4 linked regions of the Homo sapiens genome follow. The protein of the gene in region 3 interacts with the protein of the main gene of each other region in a pairwise test. Each region holds a gene or a part of one and is shown on either strand. Other genes may lie near its edges.

Region 1 (3,500 bases), on a different chromosome or scaffold from region 3:
AAGATAAAAAACAACATTGCTCTGAAGTTCTTACTTTTAAAAAAGAGGAACGAGGTATTTAAAAATAAACATGCCCCTAATGTGAACACAAGTGAAGGTAAAATTTCACCAACTGTGGCTGTCAAATGTAGATGCTAAAACACAGGGTACATTAGAACACATCCAGAAGAGGAAATCTTAGAAACGCCACTCTGTGAGAAAAGAATGTTTGGCCCACAGGGTGACATTAAGGCAAAGATAATAGCTGTTCCCAAACATCTAACGTGGTTTGAATTGTACAAGGAAGAACTGATTCATTTTCTGTTGCTCCAGAAAATAGAACTACACAGGTAAGTAAAAATTACAGGGTAAATACGTGGTAGAAGTTGACAATAAACAGTGTTAAAACAGGGAAGCGCAAACATAAAAACATAAAAACGCTGGTCATTGGAAATGCTAAGTAAATACCAGGTAACTATTGTATAAGCTTTTTAACAGGACAGATTTCCACATTCAGTGTGACTGGATGATGGGTAAAAGAGCAGGTATTTCTGCACTATGCTGGTGAACCTTTGCTGAAAATTACAGGTCACCCTATAGAGCCGAATTGATACATTTTACATATATCATAATGTCTTTTATGAAGCTTCTACACAAACTATAATAACCTTGCCTAACATGTGTCTTTATGTCAACAGAATCGAGGCATGTTTACACTGTCTCATGAAACACTCTGCTTTACCCAGGGACAAAATATAATGTTTACCTAGAAGTTATCCAATGTATGAACCTTACAATTATTGCCATGCGTTTTTTATTGCATTATCACGAACATTCAGAATTATATTTCTTGTTTATTTCACATGCAAGGGTTACTCAGCATGGACATGAAGGCTATAAATAAGACCTGATAGAGAAAGTCCTTTAACAGAACTCATACCTTCTGTGCTTCTTTCTTCACAGAGTTACATTCAGGATTCAGAGCAAGGCAGTAGAGAAATTCCTTTAACACTTCCTTACTTCTTCCCAATCCAGAAAGAGCCTGAGCTTTTACTTGATGTCCCTAGATTCACCGAAGACAAAGTGTACATTTTTAAAACCCAGCATGATTATATACTTGAATACAAACTTCCCTGAACAAATTTATTAGAACAATTTGTTTTAATTTCACATTACATAGAATAAACAAAGCCCATCAAAGGATGACTCTATCGCTACTTTCTCTACCCTGGAAACTTAGCAAACTTCAATAGCTCATAAATACAATCTACAGTCAGAACACAGGAGCTACCGTACCTGAAATGTTCTGCTCAAAGGAGTTCTAAGGGACGTGCTAAGAGAAAACTGGCTATCCACTTTAAATTCATTCAGCAGTTACAGGTCATTACCATCTTCCTGGCTTCCAGGAGTTTACAGTCTCATGAGCTAAGACAGACACGACTAAAAACAATTACAATACAAATCATAATATACTAAGTGCCACAATAAAAGTAAACAAAATACAATATGGATCAGTAATTTCCCATGGCATTTTCTTTTCATCTTATGAATGCAGTATTTTCTCAAATCTATAAAAACACTATTTTTGTTTCTTTTTTTACTGGTTTACATATAGTTGAAAGACTTTCTCTTAGCACTTGAAATATGTTGTTCCAATGTCAACCAGCTTCCACAGTTTCAGATGAGATGACAACCATAAATATTATTTCCCTGTATGTCATTTTTCTCATTCTCATTCCATGTCATTTTTCTTTACTGCTTTCAAGACTTTCCTTTTATCTTTGGTTTACAGCCTAGCCATTTGATTATGACTTGAGTTTATCATTGCTTATAAGTTGAGTTAACCTTCTTGGATCTGAAATTAATGTTTCCCACTAAATTTGGAAACTTTTTACCCATTATTTCTTCTTTTTTTTTCTTGCCAAACATTTTCTGTCTTCTTCTGAGATTCCAATTGCACATACGTTGTACCACTTCATATTGTCCCACAAGTTTCCAAGATTCTTTTTGTTTTTCTTTAATCTTTTTTCTTTCTGTTTTTTGCATTGAATAATTTCTCTTCCTATAGATCTATCTTCAATTTCACTGATTATTTTGCCATGTATAATGTGTTATTAACCCTACCTAGAAATTTTAAATTTCAGCATTGATAATTTTTATCTCTAGAATTTCCTTTTTTTTTCTTTTTTAGAGACAGGGTCTCACCCTGTTGCCCAGGCTAGAACGCAATGGCATGATCACATCTCACTGTGACCCTTAACTCCTGGGTTCAAACAATCTGCCTCAGCCTCCAGAGTAGCTCAGACTACAGGCACATGCCACCCTGCCTGGCTAATTTTTTTGTAGACTTGGGGTCTCGTGATGTTTCCCAGGCTGGTCTTGAACTCCTGGCCTCAAGTGATCCTCCTGCCTCAGCCTCCCAAAGCATTGGGCATACATGCATGAACCATGAACCCAGCCAGAATTTCCATTTTTTATAGTTTCCATCTCCCTGTTGAGATTGCTCTTAAGTCAAAGGTACCATATTGTCCTTCAATTCTTTGCATGCAATTTAACTCTTTGAACTTATGCATAATAACTTCTTCAAAGTCTCTTTGTGGAAAATATAATATCTGGGCCCACTCAGAGACAATTTTAGTTGACTGTTTTTTTTTTTTTTTTGAGACAGAGTCTTGCTCGCTCGTCCAGGCTGGCGTGCAGTGGTACAATCATGGCTCATTGGAACCCCTGCCTCCCAGGTTCAAGTGATTCTCCTGCCTCAGCCTCCTGAGTAGCTGGGACTACAGGCGCCTGCCACCATGCCTGGCTAATTTTTTTTTTTTTTTTTTTTTTAGTTGAGATGGGGTTTCACCATATTGGCCAGGCTAGTCTCAAACTCCTGACCTTGTGATCCACCTGCCTTGGCCTCACCAAGTGCTGGGATTATAGGCGTGAGCCACTGCACCCAGCCTCCATGGCTCCTTTTTAAGCCTTGTGGTTCTCCCTGATGCCTATGAAATTTGGAAATAAGCCAGGATTTGGCCAGAGCTGGGAATCATCCACTCCGGGATTTCTCTGCTTTTAGGGATTCCCCTAATTTCCAGCTCTTCTGTTAGAACTCGGAACTCTGAACTCCTGGTACTTTCACGTAGTGATCCTGAGTGTTTGTCCCAGTACTGTTTTTGTGCAGCTGCAGCTGTGGAGATAGACAGAACTCAGGGACCAAAAAGACAAAACAAAAAACAAACAAACAAAAAACCCACACACAATTCTTTTCCTTTTCATGTGCAGGTTTTTTTAGAAACTCTCCTCCAGCTTCTGTTTTTGGATGTTTTATAGTGTCTTTATTTTTTTTAATACAGTTCTTATAACTGTTTTCCCCTCTGGATTCACATGACGACTTCACTCCTTCACTATTACCAGAAGTAAACCACTACCCCTGTTAATGTCATTTTAATTATTTCTGTATAAAAATTCTCCAGAACATTGGCAGCCACTGATGGGTAAATGTGAAGGTCTATTTTCAGGTCCTGTCTTACTGC
Region 2 (3,500 bases), about 37 Mb from region 3:
TGGCACACACCTGTAGTGACAGCTCCTCGGGAGGCTGAGGCAGGAGAACCCCTTGAACCCCGGAGGCAGAGGTTGCAGTGATCCGAGATCGCGCCACTGCACTCCAGCCTGGGCGACAGAGCAAGACTCTGTCTCAAAAAAAAAAAAAGAGTGTGAGACTGAAAAAGTACCTGAACATGGCTGAAAACATCCCAGGTTTGGAGAGAAGAATGAGCAAAAGACTTGAAGAGACACTTCACAACATAACGTAAAGCACTTTTAAAAGGATGCTGTAAACACTCTGGAAAGCAGCTATGAGAAAGTCAGCACCCGCACGGCGGGCAAGTGGGCCTCAGCTGTCCAAGCACTGCACGCACCTGCACGGACTCGGCGCCCAGACGAGGTGCAGGCTGAGCACCAGCCTTCATGCTGGGGACGGGAGCTTCCAGACACCCTCCCTCCACTCAGGGAGAAGCTGACCTCCAGCTCAACTCTCTCTTTCCCTGGACACTGGGCAGGTGGCACACGGGTGTCTACCACATTAGCAAGCAGCACTGCGTGGGTCAAATGACTGCTGACTGGCACTTTTTATCCACGCCGCGAGATGCGATAGAGAGAGGGACCATCAACACTGTGGGCTTCCCAGAAGACGGTGGCGCTCAGGGTACATCTGCTGCAGGGACTGCAGACGCGATCCCTGCGGGCTGCTACAGGAGATACTGGCTGCACAATACTGGTTGGGGCTTCTGAGCTAGAGGGGCACCACACCCACCAATGTGGGTCTCCTCTCCTTGCACCTGACCTGCCGCAGAAGGTCTCTCTGCTGGACCGGAGCACCTGGTGTGGTCCTGTTGGCCCGTTCACACCCATCTGAGACCCTTCTGAGCAAACCGGCCCAACACACACAACAGAGGGTAGCTGGTCAGTTAAAAGGGCGTGGCAGAACCCAGCGCACTGACACGAAGGACAGACACCACAAATCGATCAGGAAGTGCTGGACGCACATTTCGGAGCAGTGTGCGCAGGTGGCTCTATATGGGGCCTGGAGATGACACAACAGATTGCCCGTGGCGGCTTTCACTTCGCCATTCCACCACAGTATCTTCTCTGAGAAATGACTTTCTATGATAAGAATAGTTTACTCCTGCGGCTTTAAAAAGTGCTTTAAAAAGCTGCTTATGGCCAGGCGCGGTAGCTCACGTCTATAATCCCAGCACTTCAGGAAGCCAAGGCCAGTGGATCACCTGAGGTCAGGAGTTCAAGACCAGCCTGGGCAACATGGCAAAACCCCGTCTCTACTAAAAATACAAAAGAAAAAAAAATTAGCCGGGCGTGGTGGTGGGCACCTATAGTCCCAGCTACGTGGGAGGCTGAGGCAGGAGAATCACTTGAACCCGGGAGATGGAGGTTGCAGCGAGCCGAGATCACGCTACTGCGATCCAGCCTGGACAACACAGCTAAAAACTCTGTCTCAAAAAAAAAGAAAAGAAAAAAAATGCTGCTTATGTTAGAAGAATACATAAAACATAAAAAAAGTACCCAGGATCCTGTTAAGTGTAAACAGAGCATGCAGCCGGCTCTCCTAACGTCTGTACACACGCATCACACAGGAAGGGCCTCTGTTAATGTGCTATGATGAACCTGCGGTACTTCTGAAGTGGGGGATGGAAGAGCTTATCAGAGAAGCCTGTCCTCCTTCCTTCCTGTCTCCTCAAACTCTCCACAGCATGGCTGGGTGAGTGGAGCTGAGGGGATACCAGGCATGTGGTTGAGTTCCAGGGGCCCCACCACAGGCCCCACAACAAAGGCTTTAGGTTTTTATGTCGACTTGCCTTAAGTCAGCTCATTTAGTTTTGAAATTACTACAGACTTCCATTAAAATCATTATAAATTCAAATATGTATTAATATAGATTTATAATTAATGAAATAAATTCCAAATATTAAAACCAATCTCCATTAATTTCAGAGTTATATCAGAACCCAGAAAAAGACAGTCAGGGCATTCCTGGATCCATCCACATTAACTCAACAAACACATGTTCAGAGGCCACGAGGCACTCGGCCACTCAGACAGACCAGCTCCCGTGGCCTGGAATCAGCAGCGGGAGGAGGGGCAGTGAGAGTGGGCAGTGCTCGGGCAGCACAGCGGAGCAGGAGGCATGTGGGGGCCTCTGCCAGGCACTGCACAGGAGGGCGCGTCGGTCGGTGGCTCACCTGTGGACGCGCTCCAGCTCCAGGCGATGCTCCTGGAATGCCAGCTGCTGCTGCTGCTGCAGCTCCTCCACCTTCCTGGCCTCTCTGGCTAGCGCCTGCCTCAGCTTAGCTGCCTCTATCTTGAGCTCGCTCACCTCTGCCCGCCTGGCCTCTTCCCACTCCCTGGCCTGGGCGAAGGCGGCGTCATAGCGCTCCAGCTCGAGGTCCCGCTCCTCCAGCACCTGAAGGTTGTAGACAAAGTCCTCCTGCAGGCACCGCAGTTTCCCCTGCGCCTCCTCCAGCTGGCTCCGTGTGTCCTGCAGAGCCGCCTCCTGCAGCTGGGTGCGGTGTGCCTGCAGCGCCCTCCACTCCTCCTCCTTGCGAAGCAGCAGCTCATTCAGGGCGGGCTCTGAGCCCAGTGGCAGCATGGTGGCCGCTGCAGTAAAGAGAAATCAGGTTCAGGGTGCACCGTGAGGGGCCCTAATTTTCCTACCACAGTACCTACCTCACATTCCCTATCAACAGTTACCACGGCCGGGCACGGTGGCTCACACCTGTAATCCCAGCCCTTTGGGAGGCCGAGGCAGGCGGATCACCTGAGGTCAGGAGTTCAAGACCAGCCTGGCCAACATGGCAAAAACCTGTCTCTACTAAAAATACAAAAATTAGGCCGGGTGCAGTGGCTCACGCCTGTAATCCCAGCACTTTGGGAGGCCCAGGTGGATGGATCACTTGAGGTCAGGAGATCGAGACCAGCCTGGCTAACATGGTGAAACCCCGTCTCTACTAAAAATACAAAAAATTAGCCTGCTGTGGTGGCACGTGCCTGTAGTCCCAGCTACTCGGGAGGCTGAGGCAGGAGAATCGCTTGAACCCAGGAGGTAGAGGTTGCACACCAGCCTGGGTGACAGAGCAAGACTCTCTCTCAAAACAAAATAAACAAAAAAAAAAGGCCAGGCATGGTGGCTCACTCCTGTAATCCCAGCCCTTTGGGAGGCCAAAGTGGGTGGGTCACCTGAGGTCAGGAGTTTGAGACCGGCCTGGCCAACATGGTGAAACCCCGTCTCTACTAAAAATATAAAAATTAGCCATGCATGGTGGCGCATGCCTGTGATCTCAGCTACTCGGGAGGCTGAGGCAGGAGGATCACTTGAACCCAGGAAGTGGAGGTTGCAGTGAGCAGAGATCGCACCATTGCACTCCAGCCTGGGCGACACTAAGACTCTTTTCTCCAAAAAATTAAAAAAATAAATTAAAAAAAAGAAATCCAGGGGAAGTAGAGGAAGGGAAGATGGGAAACATGGTTTGTCCAGCTATAAGAGCTAG
Region 3 (3,500 bases):
TGCGGGTGGAATTTGGTGAGGGCATGGGCCCCAGAGATGATCAGTAATAAGAAATGAGTTGGTCTTGTCAAAGGCTACATCTTGGCCCCAGTCCCGCCCTCTCATGAACAGATCAGAGTCCACTCTGGGGAAGGGCGCAGCATTTGTCTTTATTTTTCCTCAGCGACTAAAGGCAGCAGCAGTGCCCTGAAGATTAGCAGCAGCAGCAGCAGCAGGTGGCAGGAAGGAGTGGAGGGAAAGGACACCAAGTCTTGGGGAGAGGGAAGGACCCTTCTTCGGCCTTAGAGGGGAGAGGAGAACCCTGAAGTGGGCCCTCCCAGTCCCATCTCTGGGCACAGATCCCACCAGTCTGCTCACCAGTCTGCTCAGTCAAAGCAGAGTGGGTGCACTGGGGTGGACGTGTCAGCCCTGAGCACCCGGCCTCCAGGCTGCAGGAATATGAGCCAGTGTCTTCACTTTGCTCGTGCCTCAGTTTTACAATTGTAAAATAGGGCACTACCTAGAATACTGGGTACATTTTGTGTGTGAGTAAGAAGGGACCGCAAGAGGCCCTTGGCTTAGGGAAAAGCAGCCGGTCACTATGGGGTGGAGAGGGTCAGACGTGTGGCAGTGGCTTACTGGGGTTAAGAAGCAGCAGTCCCAGGGGCTCAGAGGCTGGGGCGGCCTGGTATGACACAGCAAGGAAGAGGCCTTTAGAAATGGGACAAAGTCATGCCCTGCCCCCATGGATACATCCCCTTTCTCTCCTGTTTCAGCATCTTCAAGAGGATGAGTCACTTCCTTAATTCCCACAATCCAGAGGCCAAGTGCAACTGGTCACCCACAACCCCTACTTGTATGCCTAGCGCCATCCCAATTGCCTCCTCCTCCATCTCTACCAGCGTCCCCTCCAGTCTGCACGGGGCAGTCCTCCTGGGCTTGACCTCTCTGTACCCACAGCTGGGGGCCAGGCAGCCCCCCTCTATCCCTCCCAGCACCTCATCCCTCTCCACGTACACAACAGATCCCCCAAGTGCTGAGAATCAAGCTCCCACCTGCCCACAGCGTGCCCACAGATGGCATCCCTGGATGGCAGCTCAGGTGGACTGAGACACTTGAGTCATCGCTCAGGAGGTCCTTCTGGGATCTGGGCAGGTGACTGCCCCAGGTGGCAGGACGTCCCCACCCATCTTAGACTGATCAGGGTCAGTCTAGGAGAACAACCCTCTGAGCTGGGCATGGTGGCTCCAATCTATAATCCCAGCTACACAGGAGGCTGAGGTGGGTAGACTGCTTGAGCCCAGGAGTTCAAGGTCAGCCTAGGCAGCATAGGGATATCCCACCTCATAAAAACCAAAAGACAAAACAAGCCTCTGGCCAGGGCTACCTTGTCTGTGGGGCCTTCCCTTTCCTGTCTGAGTCTCAGTTTTCCTCCAGCAGCCTGAGGAAACTCAAAGGCACAGTTCCCAGATACTCCGAGAGAACCTCCATCTCTGGCAACAGTTTCCATAACAACAGGAATCAGGGATGTGGAGGGCGATGTAGTAGGTGCCCCCCGCCCTCCTCCCCTTCTCTCCTTCCTCCTCATTCTAACGCAAGCTGCTGGCCATGCCCCTCCAGACTGCCCCTTGGGGGTGAGTTTCTTGTTAGTTGGAGTTGCTGGGTGCTGGGTGGGTGCCGTCTGGCAGGCCTGATACTGACGGAGCCTAGGGCAGCAAGCTGACCTAGGGACAGAGGAGGGAGGGGAGCAGCTGGGGTGGTGGGGAGCTCAGGTCTGGGGAAATGTGCCAGCAGAGGCGGAGCAACTATCCTGCTTCTGCTCGGGCCCCTCATGAGACGGGGCAGAGGCCACCAGGTGGGTCCTGCCTCACATCACATCCTTGTGCTCCTGCTTGGACTCCTTAATGACCTGCAGGGGACAGGGAACGTGCACAGTGCAACAGTTAGGAGTTCACACAGACCCCAGGTCCACCACCACGAGGCTGTGTAACCTTGGGAAGTCCCCGACTTCCCAGGTCTTACTTTTCTTGATAGTAACCACAGCTGCCTTGCGTGGTGGACAGAGGGGGTGGTGAGATAACACTGGGAAAGCATTTAGCGTCATGCCTGGCGAGTGGTAAGCTGCTGGAGTAAGATGAGCTCCCACTGTGGTTGGAGTGGCGTGGCGGATACGCCAAATCCCCTCTTCCCATTCCCCTGGTAGTTTCCTTTTACCAAGCTGGAAATGGAAAGCCCTCCCCATCCCCAACTGTGTCTGCTAGAGTTGGAAGTGAAAGCTACTAACTTTAATTCTCTTTCTCTCCCTGGCAAGCAAGGCCCCCGAGTTTGAGGGTGAGAAAGAGAGAGTGTGTATTAGGATCCCATCTAGTGGCTTTGGTACCAAGGCTCCCCTTAGAACAGCCTATGGAGGGACTGAGGAAACGGAATTACATTCAGTTTCCTTGCTCTCCTCCAGAATTCCCTGGGGAGCTACTGGGAGTTGCTGGGAACCTTCTATGTGCCAGCCCCAGGCTTTCCTCCATGGCCTGGCCTTGAGAATCCCTGGGGCCAGCCAGAGCCTGACTGGGCCCAAATCCCTCCTTACCTCTCCATCCCGCATCTCCACGGTCTTCACCACGATGTTCCTCTTGAGGTGGCCTTCTGACACAGACTTGGTGTCCAGGCTGGTTTCTGCAGATGTGGGGAGAGGAGGCCTCTCATGGACTTTCAGGGCATGAGCCATCCTCTCCCATGCCCGGCTTCCCCATCGCACCCCCCTCCCCATCATGAGTATGAGAACCTATGCAACCGAGCAGAGAGAGCCTAGGCTCTTCCAAACGGGCTGGAGAGCCCCCAAATCCCAATAGTGCTGCTGCCAGAGTCCTGGCTGCTCTGTCTTCTGGCCTGGCTTCATTTCAGCCCCTCTGCAAGCCCTGGCCTGGCACCTGGCTTTCTGAAAACCCAGCACGGTATTGAAATCAGGAGACCAGGAGGGGTGCGGTGGCTCACACCTATAATGCCATCATTTTGGGAGGCTGAGGCAGGTGGATCACCTGACGCCAGGAGTTCGAGACCAGCCTGGCCAACATAGTGAAACCTCTACTAAAAATACAAAAAATAGGCCAGGCATGGTGGCTCACACCTGTAATCCCAGCACTTTGGGAGGCCGAGGCAGGTGGATCGCCTGAGGTCAGGAGTTTGAGACCAGCCTGACTAATATGGTGAAACCCTGTCTCTACTAAAAATACAAAAATTAGTCAGGCATGGTGACAGGTGCCTGTAGTCCCAGCTACTCAGGAGGCTGAGAGAGGAGAATCACTTGAACCTGGGAGGCGGAGGTTGCAGTAAGCTGCGATCGTGCCACTGCACTCCAGCCTGAGCAACAGAGTAAGACTCCGTCGAAAGCAGGCAAGCAAGCAAGCAAGCAAGCAGGAAAGAGAAAGGAAGGAAGGAAGGAAGGAAGGAAGAAAGAAAGAAAGAAAGAAAAAGAAAGATTAGCCAGGTGTGGTGGCTCGCACCTGTAATCCCCTTACTCGGGAGTC
Region 4 (3,500 bases), on a different chromosome or scaffold from region 3:
TCATCACAGCATGTGTAATCTATAGCCAATAGAAAAGAAAGATGTTCTGGGAAGATAAATTTGGCTTTGATACACCTGAGAACTGGAGGAGGCAGAGATTAGAGCTAGCTAAGAGGCTATGATCCAGAACAGGTATGTAAAAAAGTGCTGTCTCTGGTCTATGGCAGTGGGAAAAGAGAGGCATATGTACTATCTGACTTGGAGACTGGTGACATATGAGGGTCAAAAGAGAAAAGATGGCAGAGGTTTCAAGCCTAAGTAACTGGGGGTAAGGTATTTTGGTTAACACAAACTAGAAAGTCCACTGAATGTGGACAAATGTCTAGTTTAGACTTACAAATAGCATCATTTACTACTTATCATTAAGTGGGGGCAAATATGCATACATTGTTTGTATTTCTTTCTTGTTTTTCTTTTCTGTTTTCCAGCTTTGCTACACTGAGCACATATTACTTTATTAATAGAAAAAACAATCCTGTTTTCACACAAACTTTGTTATGCACATGTTCACAGGCAGTATAGGTGAGATATTGTAGAGGAGATGTTCAGCAGGAAGATGGAATTGTAAGCCTGAGCTCATGAGTAGTCAAGGATATAGGCATAGTTTTAAAGTCATCTGCATAGAGTTAAAGCCCTGGGAATGCATGAGATCCTCAAGCAAAGGAGACTGAATTAGAGGGCCAGATGATGAAATTCTGTCTCAAGTTGTGCAGCCCTGACGCACTCACAGGGAATGACTGGTGCTAGGTAAGAGCACAAGAAACATCACACTAGCCTTGAGGTTTTGTCAACTTCCTCAGATTTAGTCTCAGAGAGTAGGAGAACGAGGTGTGGACAACATCTCTGCACCATGAGAGTGTTCTGAAGTTATGTCTATCAATGCTCTTTACTTATTGTTACAGTGATTTGTTTTTGTGTCATCATGCTGATGAAGCTGGGATGAAGAAGTAAATCTTATTCAATTATTATCCTTCTTTGTTTTTCCCTCACCTAAGTACTTTCACATACCAGGCACTTTATATATACATACATATATTTGCTGAAGAAACCAATCACACATATAGAGCTACTTTTTCCAATCCCCTCCCACTCTCAAATGCCTTAGCTTTCCTTGGTCAAGCTGCTACTTGCTTTTCTATCAGAATCAGTCCTCTAAAACCCAGATGACACGACATGTCCTGCCTTGAGGCGTTTTCTCCATATATCCCTCATTCCTACTTTGAAAGTTCACCATTTTTGCTCACTGTACACATTATTTACCCGTAAGAACATAGCATGTTATTTTACGTGGCATTTAGAAAATCTGTAATTAGCTAAGCTAGAAACAAGGCAATAAACTGCCCAGTGGAGCATGGCTCAGACTCGATATGCATTTTGGGGGGTTTTATTTGACACACTCATCGCCAAATTTAGCTCTTTCTACATTCCTAGACCTACTACTTTGACATTTAAGACCCATCTTCTACAACTGCTTGAAGAAATAGTCTTTCAGAAATCGGTACTAAAGAGATAGTTAAGTCCGAATCCTATCTTTGGTTGAATTTCACAACCTGAAAGAACTTCACAAACTCTAAAACAACATAACAATGTGACCCAAATAAGTGTCAGAGTTGCTGGTGTGAAGAGTCAGTTTAAGGACTCCTGACACTGGGCCTGGGCTGCCTTCATCCTGTTACTTTGTCTATGGGACAGTTAATGTATTCTTCTGCTGTCATGTCACATGGCTTAGGTGGGGGAAGCTGGTATAGATGTGCCTTGAGTGGAAATATTTTTCTTATAGGGTAGATCTTATTTTAAGTATTTAGAGGCATTTGTTATTTAGCAGAGCTCTGCAGTCAAACTTTTACATAGCAAAGAAACACTCGAAACACTCTCTAAATTGTCTGCCAACTTAATTTATTTTCCACTATAGCAATATAAAACTGGATTGGGTTTTTTTATTACCAACAGACTTGGTTATCTCACTCATACAAGTAAGCTGAAGCTAAACAGACCGACTGTTCCTATTCTCCTCTGCCACTTATGATCTCAGGCAACTCTCTTACCTCTCTCATTTTTTATCTTTTTAAATAAAATTGGGTTTAGGACTATCTGCTTGTCTACACCCTCAGCAATGCTGGGGAGATCAAGTGGGAAAATGTATGTGAAAACAGTCTGTAATAATAACAATTATGACAACAGGAATAATAGCTAACACTCATTCAGCATTTATTATGTGTCAGGCACAGCTTTGCATAAATTAACTCATTTAATTCTTACAAAAATACTAAGATGCAGGTATTGTTATTATTCCCATTTTACAGACAGAAAACGAAGGCACAGAGGCTAAGTAACTCACACAAGTCACAAAGCTAGTAAGTAAAGAAGCTGGAATAAATGACCATGTGCTACCTATACCCTGAGGACAGTGATAATAAACCTTTTGCTTACAGAGACTACAAAAGATAAAATAAGTATCACAGGAAAATTAAATAATCATCATTTTATAGATGAGGCAATTGAGGTTCAGCAAGGTTTCACAGTTTGCCTAATTATATTTTCAGAGTATCTAAATTTAGAATATATTTAAACTATGTCTGAAGTGCTCTGTTTTCAAATTAAGGACAGTAGAGCAAATCTTTTGAAAACAGATTCAATGGTCAATTTTAAATTCTAGTGGCCTAACCAGCTATTATACTGGGAAATTATAGATTAAATATGCCTGGACATTCATAAGAATAAGGGCTTAAGAAATATTAGCTACTATCCCTATAAATGTCCCAATGCCTAGATCAGAGTCCCAAAGCACATCAAGAGTTCTAGACAAGATAGTACAGTTCTTTTTGAAAGGGTGAATGAGCAATTATAGTCTCTGGATTTGGAGAGTAATAAAAAAGTGGAGTCTCAAGTGTGAACTTTTTGTTTTCATTTTCCCTAAATGACCTATTTTTTTAAAAACTCTATAAATTCACATCCTAATCAAGATAAAATTTTCAGAAATAGATTTTAATTCATTCCTTTTCACTGAATGCACAGTGGTACTTAATAATACCAAAAATCCAGTTAGAAAGGAGAAGGTAAGTTTAACCCACCTACTAATGAAACAACACCTTTAAAAAGAAGGCATAATCCCTGTGGGCCAGCTGTGTGCCAGGCACTCACAGGCCAGCAAGTGCAAACAGCAAGGCTTGACTCTGAGTGAAACGGAACCGGGTCAAATCTGGCTCTTCCTCTACTAGCTGGGTGGCCTCAGGCAAAGTTACTTCATTTCTTTGACTCTATCAGGAGCCTCTGAACACACAGCTGACCTTCTAGCATGGAATCACTGGAATCCAGGCCAACTGCTGTCCCCTATGGGGTTTGGTGGGATTTATCATCTTGTTTCAAGGCCTACTTCACAAGACCCCAGAGATACTTTTTGGAGTCTTTCAAGATCAGACTGGCCAATCTACATGGCTATAAGAGACACATCATGGGAATTTAGTAGATTAAAAAGGGCCCTATTTGGCATTGAACCAAAT

Evidence for each region. Proteins that work in one complex are often made in the same cells at the same time.
Region 1: the proteins of GFAP (region 3) and LONRF2 interact in binary tests that used the Homo sapiens proteins (3 or more experiments, as listed by UniProt).
Region 2: the proteins of GFAP (region 3) and CCDC57 interact in binary tests that used the Homo sapiens proteins (3 or more experiments, as listed by UniProt).
Region 4: the proteins of GFAP (region 3) and RAB38 interact in binary tests that used the Homo sapiens proteins (3 or more experiments, as listed by UniProt).

Annotation. Positions count from the first base shown.
Region 1 is NC_000002.12:100,302,002-100,305,501, forward strand, and holds part of LONRF2 (LON peptidase N-terminal domain and RING finger protein 2), read right to left. Parts: intron 1,043-3,500; coding exon 920-1,042; intron 1-919.
Region 2 is NC_000017.11:82,199,343-82,202,842, forward strand, and holds part of CCDC57 (coiled-coil domain-containing protein 57), read right to left. Parts: intron 2,611-3,500; coding exon of another isoform or gene 2,603-2,610; coding exon 2,196-2,602; intron 1-2,195. UniProt on the Homo sapiens protein: Pleiotropic regulator of centriole duplication, mitosis, and ciliogenesis. Critical interface between centrosome and microtubule-mediated cellular processes. Centriole duplication protein required for recruitment of CEP63, CEP152, and PLK4 to the centrosome.
Region 3 is NC_000017.11:44,905,501-44,909,000, forward strand, and holds part of GFAP (glial fibrillary acidic protein), read right to left. Parts: intron 2,650-3,500; coding exon 2,564-2,649; intron 1,889-2,563; coding exon 1,847-1,888; 3' UTR 1-1,846.
Region 4 is NC_000011.10:88,168,944-88,172,443, forward strand, and holds part of RAB38 (ras-related protein Rab-38), read right to left. Parts: intron 1-3,500. UniProt on the Homo sapiens protein: The small GTPases Rab are key regulators of intracellular membrane trafficking, from the formation of transport vesicles to their fusion with membranes.